2 linked regions of the Homo sapiens genome follow. The protein of the gene in region 1 interacts with the protein of each later gene in a pairwise test. Each region holds a gene or a part of one and is shown on either strand. Other genes may lie near its edges.

What was found. The genes of interacting proteins can lie anywhere in the genome.
Region 2: the proteins of C11orf87 (region 1) and SLC15A2 interact in binary tests that used the Homo sapiens proteins (3 or more experiments, as listed by UniProt).

The regions. Positions count from the first base shown.
Region 1 is NC_000011.10:109,417,695-109,425,209, reverse strand, and holds the start of C11orf87 (uncharacterized protein C11orf87 precursor), read right to left. Parts: upstream 3,021-7,515; 5' UTR 2,947-3,020; intron 2,773-2,946; exon of another isoform or gene 2,643-2,772; intron 2,432-2,642; exon of another isoform or gene 2,343-2,431; coding exon of another isoform or gene 2,161-2,342; intron 1,836-2,160; coding exon of another isoform or gene 1,577-1,835; coding exon 983-1,576; 3' UTR 1-982.
Region 2 is NC_000003.12:121,925,397-121,932,422, reverse strand, and holds part of SLC15A2 (solute carrier family 15 member 2), read right to left. Parts: intron 4,666-7,026; coding exon 4,584-4,665; intron 4,003-4,583; coding exon 3,868-4,002; intron 3,442-3,867; coding exon 3,277-3,441; intron 3,122-3,276; coding exon 3,075-3,121; intron 1,584-3,074; coding exon 1,473-1,583; intron 1,298-1,472; coding exon of another isoform or gene 1,252-1,297; exon of another isoform or gene 791-1,251; intron 785-790; coding exon 688-784; intron 1-687. UniProt on the Homo sapiens protein: Proton-coupled amino-acid transporter that transports oligopeptides of 2 to 4 amino acids with a preference for dipeptides. Transports neutral and anionic dipeptides with a proton to peptide stoichiometry of 2:1 or 3:1.

The sequences.
Region 1 (7,515 bases):
AAAGAACCCAACCAAAAGCCAGAATAGTCACTTTCCAAAACAGCCCCTCCTCTGCCTTCACAACTAGAGGAAGTAATCAGAACGGTGAGGCGACTTCAGCACCAGACCTGGCTGGACAGCTCCCAGATCCTTTGTAAATCCTGAAAATGTCACAAGTCAAAGGTGTACGGGTGGGGGCGGGGCAGGGAATGAAAGCGTTAGCTTTTTAAAAAAAACTCATTTAAAGATTTTAACGTACTTATGCTCGGCCAGCGAGGGTCATTTTAAAAAGTAAATTAAATGCTCTGTCCTGGAAAATGTAATGGTTAACCAAAGGGTGAGAAATGGGCGGACTGGCGAGGGGTACCTGTCATAAACACTTTCCGGGGACTATTCTCTATGGCCTCTTGCAGTCCTGGTGCTTAATGTAGACATTTTCTTTATAATATACTATTGCCTGAGCCCGGCTGAGGGTGGGAATGGGGAGGAAAGGGAAGCTAAAGGAAAAGTGAAAGCTTAGGGGTCAGAGGGGAAGGAAGGAAACTAAATCTTAACTTGACAGCTATGTACATTACCGGGCCCCCTCCCCTCCCTTTGCTCCGGGAATCAATGCCTTTTATATATTTGGTAGCTTGTGCGGTTTCTCCTCCTAATTGAGGGGAGCGCGGGGTGGAATGGGAAGATGCATCCTCCATTGACAGTTAGAAATTATGTGATTTGTCATGCGCTTGGATTGTGTTATTAGTATTATAATAATTACTATAAATATTAATAAAGTATTATTATCAGCGTTATTTCTTCTTCCGAGACTTTCCTCGCCCAATATTTACAAATACCGCACAGTGCCTCGGCGGAGGAGAAACAAGAGTAAGGGGAGGGCAGGTAAGGAAACCAGGAAGAGGAAAGAGGGGCCAGAGGAAAATGGAAAAGGAAGGAAGAAGGAAAAAAGCAAGGGTGGCAAAGATGCTGGAAACGAGGACGGGGAACGAGAGGGGCTAGACGATCAGGACAGTACCACCGTTTGCAAAAGGCCCTCGCCAGCTGTGTCCAAACAGGAGGAAGCTGCGTGTGCTCCTTGGGGACTGGAGGCTGGCGGTGGAGGCGGAGGAGCACAGGGACCCTGGCACGGGAGGCCAGGGGACGAAGAGGACAACGACGAGGCGTTGGAAGGGGCGCAGAAGGGAGAGTCCCGGGGCTGCCTCTCCAGCCGGGTTTCCTTTGCGTGGGTTGGGGCCTGCCTGCCAGGTCGGGGCAGCCCCCCGCCACCGCGGCTGCCGCTGCAGTGATCCCGCTCATATTCCTCCTGAGCCCTCTGCATCTTCCGCTTCTTCATCCTACGCTTGTGGATGTGGAAAGTGGAGAGGGACAGCACGATGAGGCAGAAGATGAGGGTAACCAGGACAATCAGCACCAGCGTGGAGGAGAAGGACTGGAAGAGCTGCTGTCCCACCTGCGTGATGCAGGTGCCGCTGCCTACTGCGCCTGGGCCGCGGGCACCCGTGTTGCCGCTGCCGCTGGCGTTGGGGGAAGCAAAGGTCCGGTTGAGGAGACACGGCGGCAACGCCAGCCTCAGCTCCTTCGGCGCCCTGGCACTCATTGGCGCGGGGCTGGGAGGGGCCAGGCCCACTAGGCTTCCCCTCTTGGGCACACCGTTCCTACCAGCCAAGAAGAGGACGGAGCCCACGCCACCCAAAACTGCTCCCTGTAGCGGGAGGGGGTGTGCGAGCGAGCCAAGGACTAAGGGAGCAACTGCTGGCAAGCAAGGCGACCAAGGAGTGAGCGGCGCCCGAGAGATCCTCGCCGATACCACCTCGAACACGTCTCCACGCTCCCCTTTCCTTTGCAGAGGCACCAGGCTGCAAAGACACAAAGCTTAGTTAGAATCTCGGCCGCTGCCCAGGGGAGTGCTGTCGGGAAAGATCAACCACCACCGCAAAGCGGCCCTCTGGGCACACTGCCTGAGCTGGGCGCTGCCTGTATTTTCGGTCAGCGGACCCCAGCCTGCCGGCCCGTGGCCGTGCACCAGAGCCACCAGCAGCCTGCTCATGCCACTCGACAGGATGGGGTCTGCGCCGGCACCGCGGAGGTGCAGATTACTCAGCAGATAAGGCAGCCTCCCTTCCGCCCTTCACAACTTTATAATTGCAACAGACACGCAGCCGCTTTGGTTGAAGTCCCTACTTCCCAGAGCGCCGGCTCTCCTCTTTTCTGCGCCCTCTCGGTTGATGTCTTCGCCTGGATCCTACCCTTCCCAGCACCCACTCCGGGCCGCCGCGCGGGCTCCGGGTACGCAGTCCTCCCTTCCTTTCCCTCCCCGTCCAGACTCGCCCTCCCTGGACAGCGTCAGATCCCTTGGGTCCCATTCCCAGGGGGATACCCCTGGCACCACATCCCACTCTGCCTCTGTCCGCGACCGCGGCTGACGCGCAGGAACGCGCTCCATCTCTTCTCCAGCCTTCTTCCCTGGTATTCTCCCCTCTCCAAAAAAAAAAAAAAAAAAAAAAAAAAGCAGCTGAAGCATCTTTCTCAGCTGACACATTCCCACAAACGGCCCCCTCCTCCCCATTTCCCTGTGCCCCCAACTTGGCAGTAGCCTGCTTCTTTCTAGAGGAGCTGGAATGGAAAGGGGAGGGTTCCCGCCTGCAAAGTTTGGGGAACGGGACCTTCTTTCTGTCCTTCCCAGACCCAGCCCAAAGGCCCCGAGGCTTTTCCGGCATACTGGAGCCGGTAGACCCGCAGCGCACAGGAGAGCCTCCTTGCTGCTCCCAAGAGGCAGCTGCAAACTGTTGCACTGCGGAGTAGCGAGGTAGCGCGCAAGCAAGCCAGGGCAGGGGCCGGGGGCAGGGGCGGGGGCTGGAGCTATGGCCAGGGGTGGCTGCTCAGGCCGCGTGAGCTGTCCTCCCCACTCGCACCTGGCCGTCAGGCCACCCGGCCATCAGAAGCCTTTACTCACACCTTGTCTCTTACCTGGACCGCCGGCTGGCTGCAAGGAGGGAGCCCCCGCCGCGCGGCTGCAGTGGCGGCTGCAGAAAGCGTGGAGTGAATGGACCAGAGACCGAGCCGCGCTGCTGCCGCCGCCGCCGCCGCCGCCGCCGCCTTCGCCGCCGCTTCAGGGAGCTGAGCTCGCAGCCTATTGCCAGAGAGGCCGGTGACGTCAGGCAGCCACCGCCAGGGCTCCAAGCCACCCCTCAGGCCCCCACCCACCCTAGTACCCCAACACCTTGTCCTAGCATAGCGAGCCTCTGACACACACTTCCCAGTTCCCTGCCCTTCTCCAGCCCAGGAACTAGGAGGAGCAACCCCTACCTCCACCCTGCAAGCAACCCACCTTTCTCACTCTCTTGCCTAGGAAGAGTTGAATCTTCAGTTCTCCAGCTGTCTGATTTCGTTCTAGAGCTGACCCTTTGGTCCCAGAATCACATTTTTACACTCTGGATAGCCATCTACCATCGGTGCACACATCACCGGTGGTGATGAAAATTTCCCCCACCGCTAATTCCTCTCTGTGCTGCCCGTTTCTGAACATAAACTGCGTGCATTAGAGAGATGGCAGGGACGTTTCTCAACATAAGTGTGACAGAACCCAAAACACAAACCTGAACAAATTAAACAATCCAAATTAGCCATTTTTCTCCACTGGAGTTTCCAAGTTATCTTTCGCTCCATCTGATTCAAGATCCTCCTTCTTGCATCCCTCACATCTTCATCTCCAGGCCCCAGACCCACTCAATGTATTAAACACTCCTTCTATTCTGACAATCTAGACACTCATGAGCACACAAACCCTAGTCTTACAAGGAAGAAATATGAAATTATTCACAGGAAGGCAGAAATGAACTGCCTTATGAAAATTCCAAGTATTTGTAGCTTGCACAAAGTACCCCTTCATTGACCCTAATTCTTGGTAAAGTGTTTGGAGCACAACTTTTAGCAAAATACATAGAACTTCCAGAAAAGAATTCAACAGCCTCCCTAAATCTTGGAAGAGACTAGTTAACTATTGGTTTAGGAGCCTTGGAAAAATATGAATAGTGCATTTGGTTACAGAATCCAGCTTTGAAATGGAGTATGCTCATTTTTCTGTTGGAGAAGCTAGCTGGGAACAGTACCTAAAGACATTGCATGGTCTTTGAAGGCACTCAGGTGTCTTACTAAACGTGCGTTTTCTTCTTTGCTCCCTGTCTTCTTTTCTATCTTTGAGTCTAGCACAGTGCCTGTAGTTTACTTGATAAATTGAATGATACAGTGTATGTTGTTGCTCTTTCCTGCAATGCATCAGAAATGACTGATGCCCAGTTATCTGCTTGTATTTGCTGTATTTGTAAAGAAAGAGGGTCTGATATGTGGAGGAAAGGCTGTCTGTAATCTGGGGGTCCCTTCTTCGGACTCTGTGTTTAGGGTCATACAGTTACTGATGTCTGCCCCCCGCCCCCACCCCAATGCTAGCCTCACCTTCCTGACTGGAATGAGAGCACCAGATGCCTGCAATAGCCACCTGCCACATTTGGACAATTTGACTTTGGTGGGCTTAGGGGATGGAATGGTGAGCCTTTTTATTTATTTATTTATTTTTTACGCTGTGACTAAGTGACACTTTACCATTGATGCCTGACAGGCAATGTCCCATTTTTTCACACTCGCTTTGCTCCTGAAAAGTTGAGTCTAATAAACATTTTGTAAAGCAAATCCAATTTTGGATTCTCCAAAAAGAGATCTGGCTATTTCAAGAGACTCTTTAGCAAAAAATAAAAAATTTTTTAAAAAATGTTATTTTGTAAAGCAAAGAATTTTTATGCAATTAGAATTAACTCTTGGCCAGGCACGGTGGCTCATGCCTGTAATGTCAGCACTTTGGGAGGCTGAGGCAGGTGGATCACCTGAGGTCAGGAGTTAGAGGTCAGCCTGGCCAACATGGTGAAACCCTGTCTCTACTAAAAATAACAAAATAAATAAATAAATAAATAAATAAATAAATAAATAAATAAATAAAAGCCGGGCATGGTGACAGGCACCTGTAATTCCAGCTACTCGGGAGGCTGAGACAGGAGAATGGCTTGAATCTGGGGGACAGAGGTTGCAGTGTGCCAAGATTGTGCCATTGCACTCCAGCCTGGGCAACAAGAGTGAAGCTCCATCTCAAAAAAAAAAAAAAATTAACTCTCAGTCGTCTGTTTTCTAGATTTGAAGGAATTAGTTATTGGGCTTTCCCTATGGGGAATATACCTTTACAACATGTTGTAATGGGATTACAATATGTATGTAATGGGATTCTTCTTGCACACCAAGCTTCTAGGACATGTCAGAAGGCTTCCAATGTTATTCTTTTGTTACAAATGATAGCCATCTGTTATACCAGGAGTGCTAAAGCTGTGTGCATTATTTTATACACCCTATGAAAAGACAAGATCTTAATCTGGAGAACTTATACTCTACAGCAGATAAATGTGATTCACCAGAAAATGGTATTTAACTAGCAATGATTTAGGTAGATTAAAGACATTAGTTTTCAGATCAAAAGCATAGTACCCTTTTTTGTCTTTTCTCTTTCAAGAATAGGCAGTAGGTTCATAATTTATTCTTACCCAGAGGACAAATGTACTAAATACGTAGATTTGGATGTCATTGGGTAGTGTGTTTTAAACCCAAGGAAGAGCAATGACAGCAAATATGGGCACCTCTTGGACTGCAGGAATTGATCCCACTGAGTTGCCACATGATTTTTGGCACATCTGGCTGAATGGCAAGGCTTCTTCCAGACAACACCATTGTTGCCACTATTTTCGCCACCAAACTTCACAAGCCACACTCCCAAGAGTAGAGAACCAAGAAGCTCCTGAGATTCCTATAATCTTCCCTTGTAATGGGAAAGCCCCTCTGGACATAAGCATGTTCCAAATATTTAAGAGCATTTAATATTTGCTTTCAAGTTTAATGAAGAATCTCGATCTAACTTAGATAAAAGTGCCACATGGGCACCTGTACCTAAATCTAAGCAGCATTGAATCAATAATAATAATAGCTATTATCCTTATTTGCAAAACACCTACTATGTACCAGGCTATAGTAAACCCTATATTAGCATTAATCCTCTCTACAACCTCGTAAGGTTATTTTTGCCAAAATACAAAATTATTCATTTACTCATTTGTTCAACAAAAATCTGAGTACCTGCTATAAGAAATGTGAAAAAACTAAAGCTCAGAGTGTTTAAAGACAATGTCTAAGTAACCCACTGAGAAGTATATTACCACATATATTATTGGGCTGAAACACAGGTAAACTGATTCCAAAGTCAGAATTCTTTTTATGACTACTTTTCATGACTAATGGCTTTTCTCTCTTTCCCTTTCTGTTTCTCTCTTTCAAACACACTTACTTATTTTTATTTTTATTTTACCTCTGTCTACTTCTGATTGGGGTAATTATGTAAAGCTAGAGAAAAGCAGAGATGCTTGGTTGAAGTGTAGGAGGGAAGATGGGAAATCCCCATGGTTCAGGTCCTTCCTTCCAACCAGGAGCAGTCTACAGGATCTCCACAGATTCCCTTGGACTGAACAAAGTCTAGTTTGACTAAGGCAGGTCATTCTAAATCACAGTGCAGCATGATATATGCCAGGCTCCTCTTAGATTTACAGGGACTTTTCCAGAGAATGTTTAGCTGATTTTGACATTTTGCCTAATCTTATATCTCCTCCAGTCTGGGCCCCTGCATACCTACAGAGGTATGCTTATATGTTGTCATGTTACTATTAACTACTGCCCCACCCAGTAAATAAATAATAAAGGTCGAGTGAAGTTCTTGACTTTGTTCTAGTTATCTAGTTTTATTCTAGTTCAGTCTTCTCATCTGCAAAATGGGAATAATAGAATCATTTTTTGCAGTGCTATTTTAAGCACTGAGCATATAGCAAGCATTCAATAAATAGTAGCCCATTACATTATAAAGAAAATTACTAAGATTGACATTTTATCCCTGGCAATAGAAGCATTATATTGTTTTGGACATCAAAATTCAGAAAAAAATTTGATAAGTATTAGTGTCCTTTACAGGAAGATGACTAGAAAGATGAAGGGACTGAAAACAATGATAGATAAGCAATTCAAGGAGAAGGGAATACTAATCTTAGAGATGGAAAGATGTGGGGAATGTAGCATAGCCTCTTAAAATATTCGGAGTATCGTCAATAGAAAATAGATTTATCCTAACCTACATACTCAAGAGAGAACAGAAATGTAGTGAAACAGATGTAGGATGGGGAGCCTCTTTCAATTCATTATTTCAGTAGCGGAAAGATCTTTCTAACCATGTAGCTGGTTATCATATACCTCAGCAGTCTTCAAACTGGAGGAGTCAATCCCTGAGAATACATTAGACATTTTCCAGGGGAATATATGTATAGTTTTAAGGGAATTATTTTCCAAGTCCTCTACCTCTATATGTACTTCTCCCCAAAATGTATCTATCTGGATTAAAATTTATCTTTTGTCACCTCTCCTTGCAATTGTCCTATTTCACAAAAGAAAAACGTATGTTTC
Region 2 (7,026 bases), on another chromosome or scaffold:
GAAGATCTGCATATGAAGCTGGCCAAGAAGACATTAGTACTTTTTCATAAATAACTTGTGTTTGATTGGAGACATAAAAAGACTGGAGCAAGCTGTGGCATCTCACAGTGATGGCTCAAGATAAATTATGTTTCTCCTTCCCCAAGACCCTTTGCTTGTTGTTGATGTTATCTCTTAACAACCCCTACAGAGACAGTGGGCTTTCTAAAGTCACTGTAGAGCCAGGTGCGGTGACTCACGCTTGTAATCTCAACACTTTGGGAGGCTGAGGCTGGTGGATCATCTGAGGTCAGGAGTTTGAGACCAGCCTGGCCAACACGGCAAAACCCCATCTCTACTAAAAATACAAAAATTAGCTGGGCATGGTGGTGGTGGGTGCCTGTAATCCCAGATACTCGGGGAGGTTGAGGCAGGAGAATCACTTTAACCCGGGAGGCAGAGGTTGCAGTGAGTCGAGATGGTGCCACAGCACTCCAGCCTGCGCGATGAGAGCGAAACTCTGTCTCAAAAAAAATAAAAATAAAAATAATTAAAGTCACTGTAGAACCTGTCATCTTATGCTAGAAATAAATATACGTGTCTGCTTTGCCACAGAGTCTTCTCTTTTGTTTTCTGCCCCTGCCTAGAGGATCTCAGGAGATATATGTATATGGAGAGAGGGTAAAGAGGTGGCTGTGAGCTACTTACATTAGTAATAACAAACAGATATGCTGCACCAAAGTCTAGAAGACCCAAATTCAGAGAAAAGTTCTTATCTTCTGTTCTACAGTGCACTGCAGGGTATCTGGAACAGGATGAATTTAGGTTAGAATAAATATCAAGGCTTGGAAAAGCATTCCCATCTCCAGGTGAAAGTGATCTCATCTCTCTACTGATGGTGAGGAAAGCAGTGAAGCCACTAATTATCTTTGAAGAGAAATGTTTCTTGGAGTAGGTTATTTTCATGCCAGGCTTCTGTCCCTGATTTGAGCTCTTTATTGCTTGTCAGGTATTTTCTAAAATATTCAACCTAAATAAAGAAGTTACAAATCATATTCTTTTGTTAACTTAAGTACCATGTGAATTTTCCTCATGCAAATCTTATGACTTAGTAGAACAGGCTATAACAGTGAACCTGAGAAGATAAGCTCTAAGTAATGAAGTGCCAGTGTAAGGTACCAAAGTACCTTCTTTAGTAGAAATGGAAACCAATAATAAACTTTGAGAAACTCACAGAGACGGACTGTGTTAACTATACAGAGATGGGCTGTGTTAACTATATAGTGTGGTCTTCACGGCAATCGTGATCTCAACATATCTGTGCAGAAAAAAAGTGAGACTGAGGGAAGGAAGCAAGAGTTGGAAAAGATCAGTAGTGCGTCTATACTCAAAATTAGACCACATGCACCTAAGTTCCCCACCTATATACAAAGATAGCACTTAAAAAACAATTATTGACAAAAGTAAAATGTCCACAGGGGCAATGCACTTACTCTCCTCTTTGCACAGTTCTATAAGCAGACACACCATAGTCTTCACCAACATTGAGAGAGGTATCTGTACTCAGGGAGATGTTGACATCTTTATGCAAAGTGTTAACAAACCTGAGGGTAGAGATATTATTTACATATCAAACAAACAGGAACACCTGATAAAAGAGGTTAGGGGCCTTTTATGTTTTGGGTATAACTATATCCCCAGTGCCCAGGTGCCTAGGATAGTGGCTGGCACATAAAAGGTACCTAATGTATATTGTTAACTAGACGAATGAACCCACACGTAAAAAGTAATCCATAGTCTTAGCTGTCCCTAAGTTTCTTTTTCTTGAACTTTTATCTGCCACATCCTCACCAGACCTCTAGCTAGACGGACACTATCATGATCATTCATGGAAATCTGAGTTTCCTCACTAATCCAGCTTAGGTGCATCTAATTTATTTCCCTTATAATGGTGGAATCTATCAACTGAGACTTTACTAAGAAAAATAAGATAATTATGCATATATAAAGATATGATAGTATTTACATAAAACTGATATCTTATCCTCTTATAAATGAAGTCCAATGTGACCTATGCAAAACTCAGACTCCCAGCCCAGAGTAGGTTATTATAATTGTTTTGGAGTCTGCAGAAACTTTGGACCCTTCCAAGACCATCTTTCTATTTTTCTGAACCTGGCACCTAGATTGTCCTCTCAGGATGGGTTTTGGTACATTTCTGTTTTGATAGCTTTTGATTTGGTCTCTGGCCCCAGGAATAAGAAGGACATTTCCCTTTAGAGTCCTGAATGTTGATTCCTAGACTTTAGATCATTCTACACTGACCTAGAAAATGCCCCTTCTGGGGGCCCATGGCTCTCTGACCTCACATTGTCTTATTTTGAGCTGTTTACTTTTTTTGAAGCATATTCAAAAGCAAGTTATTATGACTGTCCCAACCTTCAGTGAAATCCAGACTTTTCACTAAAAGTTCTCCACTAAAATGCTATTCTCAACAGCAACCACTTGACCTTGGTGGCCATAGACCTGTGTATCTGTCCATTTCATATCTAATACCAGCCACAGAGAACACATGTCCTCTTGGGTACTCCATCTCTGTAACTGTCCCTCACCATTTGACAAGACCCTTCAGCCTTATCTGGATTCAAAACTAAGTCTTTTGACTCCAAATGTGTGCTATACCATGATGCCTCTACAGGCTTATAATAAAAACTATACTTTAAAAGATATATATTCAACTATCAAAAATGAAGGGAGGATTATTTTCTCACTTCCAAATTTCTCTCTGGCGATCACAGAGAGAAAAGTACTCAGTTATTTTCCTGAGAGCAAGATAAATAGATAAAATTCAGCAGAAAGGATTTATGCCCCAGAGTACAGGGGGCATACACAGATAGAGTCATCTTCGAATCCCACATGAGAAAAGAAGCCTATCTGCCTCTCACTGTCCTAGAAAATGCCTTTTGACACCAGTGCCCCTGGCATTCTACGAGAGGGAATTCCTGTTCAGAACAAGTAGAATGCAGCCCCAAAGATTAGAAGAGATCCAAGATTCAAGAAAACAGAGTGGCCTGGAATCTCATTGACATTCAAACCTCACGGTTGTCATCCCATTGGTTGTTCTGCTTTCTGTATCCTTTACCTACAACAGAGGAAAGTAAAAATCAGTAACAGCTGATGAAATAAGACCTATACTCAGAAAATTTGATCATCAGGCAGATCCTTGGTAAGATGTTGATGAGACAGTCATATTACTTTGAGATGACAACTGAAAACACAGGCAATTCCTCAAATTACCATCATGCTGGAGATACTGTTCCCATCTTCACGAATGACAAGACTGTACCAGTTCTTCTCCTGCACAGAATGCTCAGTGTAGAGAGACAAATTGTGATATTTCAGGTGGAAGTGAAAATCCTGGCTTTTTGTTTTCAGGTGCAGTTTGGAATAGTGTGGTGTTTTCTGTAAAATGAAGAATATAAAATGAAGGTCACGTACACCTTCTACTGCATATTGGACATCACGATGTAGCATCTCAGGGTAGGTGACCTCATCAGACACTTTCAACCTAGTAATTCCTTTCTTTAACCTAGCCATTTTATTTCTTGGAATTTACCCTAAGAAATAATCAGAGCCATGCATAAATATTTATGAATAAGAATGTTCATTGTAGGATTATGTATAATAATAAAAACGGAATACCTATGTGGAAATGTCTAAATAAACTATGGTATATCTATAGAATGGAATATTATATGCCCATTAAAATCATGTGCTCAAAGATTATCTAAAGACATGGGAAGATGCTTATGATACAATTAATGTTAAGGAAAAATCAAGATCAATATAGCATACAGAGTTTCTAATTCATTCAGGTACACACCTCACCTGAAAGGATTTGATGGACTCTATCAACAGAGAATTGTTTTCATTTCCCACCACTGTCACCTTCACCTCATCATCTGCCAGATTCAAGACTTGTAGGAAAACCTCCTGGGGACCTGGCTGGGCTGGGGCCATTTCCTTAGAGCAAAGAACACATGTCAGAATCACCAACAAATAATCCTTCAGATACAATGGCAACACATATCTCAGTTGTTTCTGACAGCCTAGTCCACTAGCCAAGTAGACATAGTTTTCTCCCTCTGAAAAATATTTGGCTTAGAAAACTCTAAAGGCAGCTTGGAGAGGGAAACATCAGCTCATTGTAGCAAGTACCAATGCCAGCTTACAAACTCGATGCTTTTTGACTCAGCTGTGGCCTCATCCGTAATAGTGGCTATTCAATCTGCCAAAAGGTTTTTACTTGAGTATGTAGAAAGGCATCACATAAGCCTGTGTTCCCTAAGGAGAGGGCTCTCTTGGATATTAGTGTTTGAGAATTCCCTGAAAATACATTCTGAGTCACTCAGGTGGGAGGTGGGCCTCATTTTGCATTGCTGTTTTACCCCTGTATCTACTTATTTATCACAAATACTTATGATGCACCTCTTATAAAACAGGTACTGTGCTAGGTCCCAGGGAATCATGACTGAACAAGTCAAAAGAGCAAATAAGAAAGATATGATCCTGCCCTCATAGAGCTTAAGAATTACTGAACTCACATTTATTTTTATCTCTACAGCTGCCGCAACTGCAAATGCCAGGCATGCTAGGATCATACCAACAGCCATTTTCCTAAGTGATCTGTGGTGGAAAGGAGAAACAATTATATCTAAACTTTAGACTCTAAAGGATGAAATCCAAACTCTGTAGCCTATTATTAAAGACTGCATTAGACTGTTCTTGCATTGCTGTAAAGAAATACCTGAGACTGGGTAATTTATAAAGAAAAGAAGTTTAATTGGCTTATGGTTCTGTAGCTTTACAGGAAGCACAGTGCTGGCATCTTCCAGCTTCTGGTGAAGCATCGAGGAGCTTTCAATCATGGGAGAAGCCAAAGGTGGAATAGGCATGTCACATGGTGAAAGCAGAAGCAAGCGAGGAGATGGGAGGTGCCACACACTTTTAAATGACCAGATCTTGTGAGAACTCATTCACTATCATGAAGATAGCACCACAGAATGGTGCTAAACCCTTCATGAGAATTCACTCCCATGATCCAGTCATGTCCCACCAGGCCCCACCTTTATCACTGGGAATTACATTTCAACATGAGATTTTGGCAGGGACAAATATTCAAACCATATCATTCCATCTCTAGCCCCCCAAAAATCTCATGTCCTTCTCACATTGCAAAATACAATTATATCTTCCCAATAGTTCCCCAAATTTTAACTCATTCCAGCACAAACTCAATCAAAAGTTCCAAGTCCAAAGTCTCATTTGAAATAAGGCAAGTCCCTTCCACCCATGAGCCTATAAAATCAAAACAACTTATTGACTCCCCAAATAAAATGGGGGTATAGATACTGGGTAAACATTCCCATTCCAAAAGGGAGAAACTGGCCAAAACAAATGGGCTACAGGCCCCAGGCAAGTCTGAAACACAGCAGGGCAGTTATTAAATCTTAAAGTTCCAGAATAATCTCCTTTGACTCCATGTCCCACATTCAGGGCACACCAATACAAGGGGTGGGCTCCCAAGGACTTGGATAGCTCCACCCTTGTGGCTTTGCAGAGTTCAGCCCCTGTGGCTGCTCTCACAGGTTGTTGAGTGCCCGTGGTTTTCCAGGCCCAGGGTGCAAGCTGCCAGTGGGTCTATCATTCTGGGGTCTGGAGGATGGTGGCCCCCTTCTCACAGCTGCACTAGGCAGTGTCCTTGTGGGGACTCTGTGTGGGAGCTCCAACCCCACATTTTACCTCCACACTGCCCTAGTAGAGGTACTCTCTGGGGGCTCCACCCCTGCAGCCGGTTTCTGCATGAACACCCACACTTTCTCATACAGCCTCTGAAATCTAGGTGAAGGGTGCCAAGCATTCTTCATTCTTGCACTCTGTATGCCTGCAGGCTTAACACCATGTAGAAGCCACCAAGGTTTATGGCTTGTACCCTCTGGAGAAACAGACATGTCACATGGTGAAAGCAGGAGCAAGTGAAGGGTAGGGAGATACTACATGCTTTTAAATGGTCAGATCCCACTAGAACTCACTATCATAAGGACAGCACCAACGGGATAGCACTAAACCATTTATGAGGAATTCATCCCCATGATCCGACTACCTCCCACCAGACCCCACCTCCAACATCCAACATTGGGGATTACATTTCAACATGAGATTTGAGTGGGTACAAATATTCAAACTGCATCAAAGACTTTTCCTGATTTGATCCCAATTACTTTCCTTTTTTAAATCCATGTTTCCATGACCAATTACTTTTCAAGGGATTTCCTAGAACTCCCCTTCATACATTCTTCTTTCTTCTTGTTCTTGAGTCACATTGAACTGCTCTTCTCTGTGATACACCACATTTACCCACCTCCATCTTTGCTTATGATGGTTTTTCTATTCGCTATGTCATAACACCAAAAATAATGGCAATACAATCAGGTTTATTGAACAAATGCCATATGCCAAGTGCTGTACATGCTTTACCTCACATTCCTCTGCAGAAATCTGTTGGCTTTGGCAGGGGAGGGACTTTTTCTTTTCTACCTCTCCTTGGCACTTGATCTTCCCTTCTTAGGACACTTATTTTACCTGTGTAGTAGTTGTATTTTATATATATATATATATATATATATATATATATATATATATATATATATATATATAGTCTAGCCCCTTTACTAAGTAATAAACTGTTTGAGGGAAATGTTGTTTTTTTTTTTGCTTGATTTATATTTTCATGACACTTGGTCCTAAACTTCCCAACATTTGCTCAATGAACAAATGACAAAGGGCCATTTTCATCTGGTAAAGTGGTCATCACAATGAAATTGCTATTAAATCAAGAATGAAAGAAGGCTTGAAACTTTCTTTTGCCAAACTCTAAAAAAGACTAGTCCTTCTATTTAGAAAAAATTTCAGGCAGTAATTGGGAATAATTCAGTCCCCAGTCCTACTAGGTTCCCCATTTGTTTTGTAGGGACAACAGGAGATTTA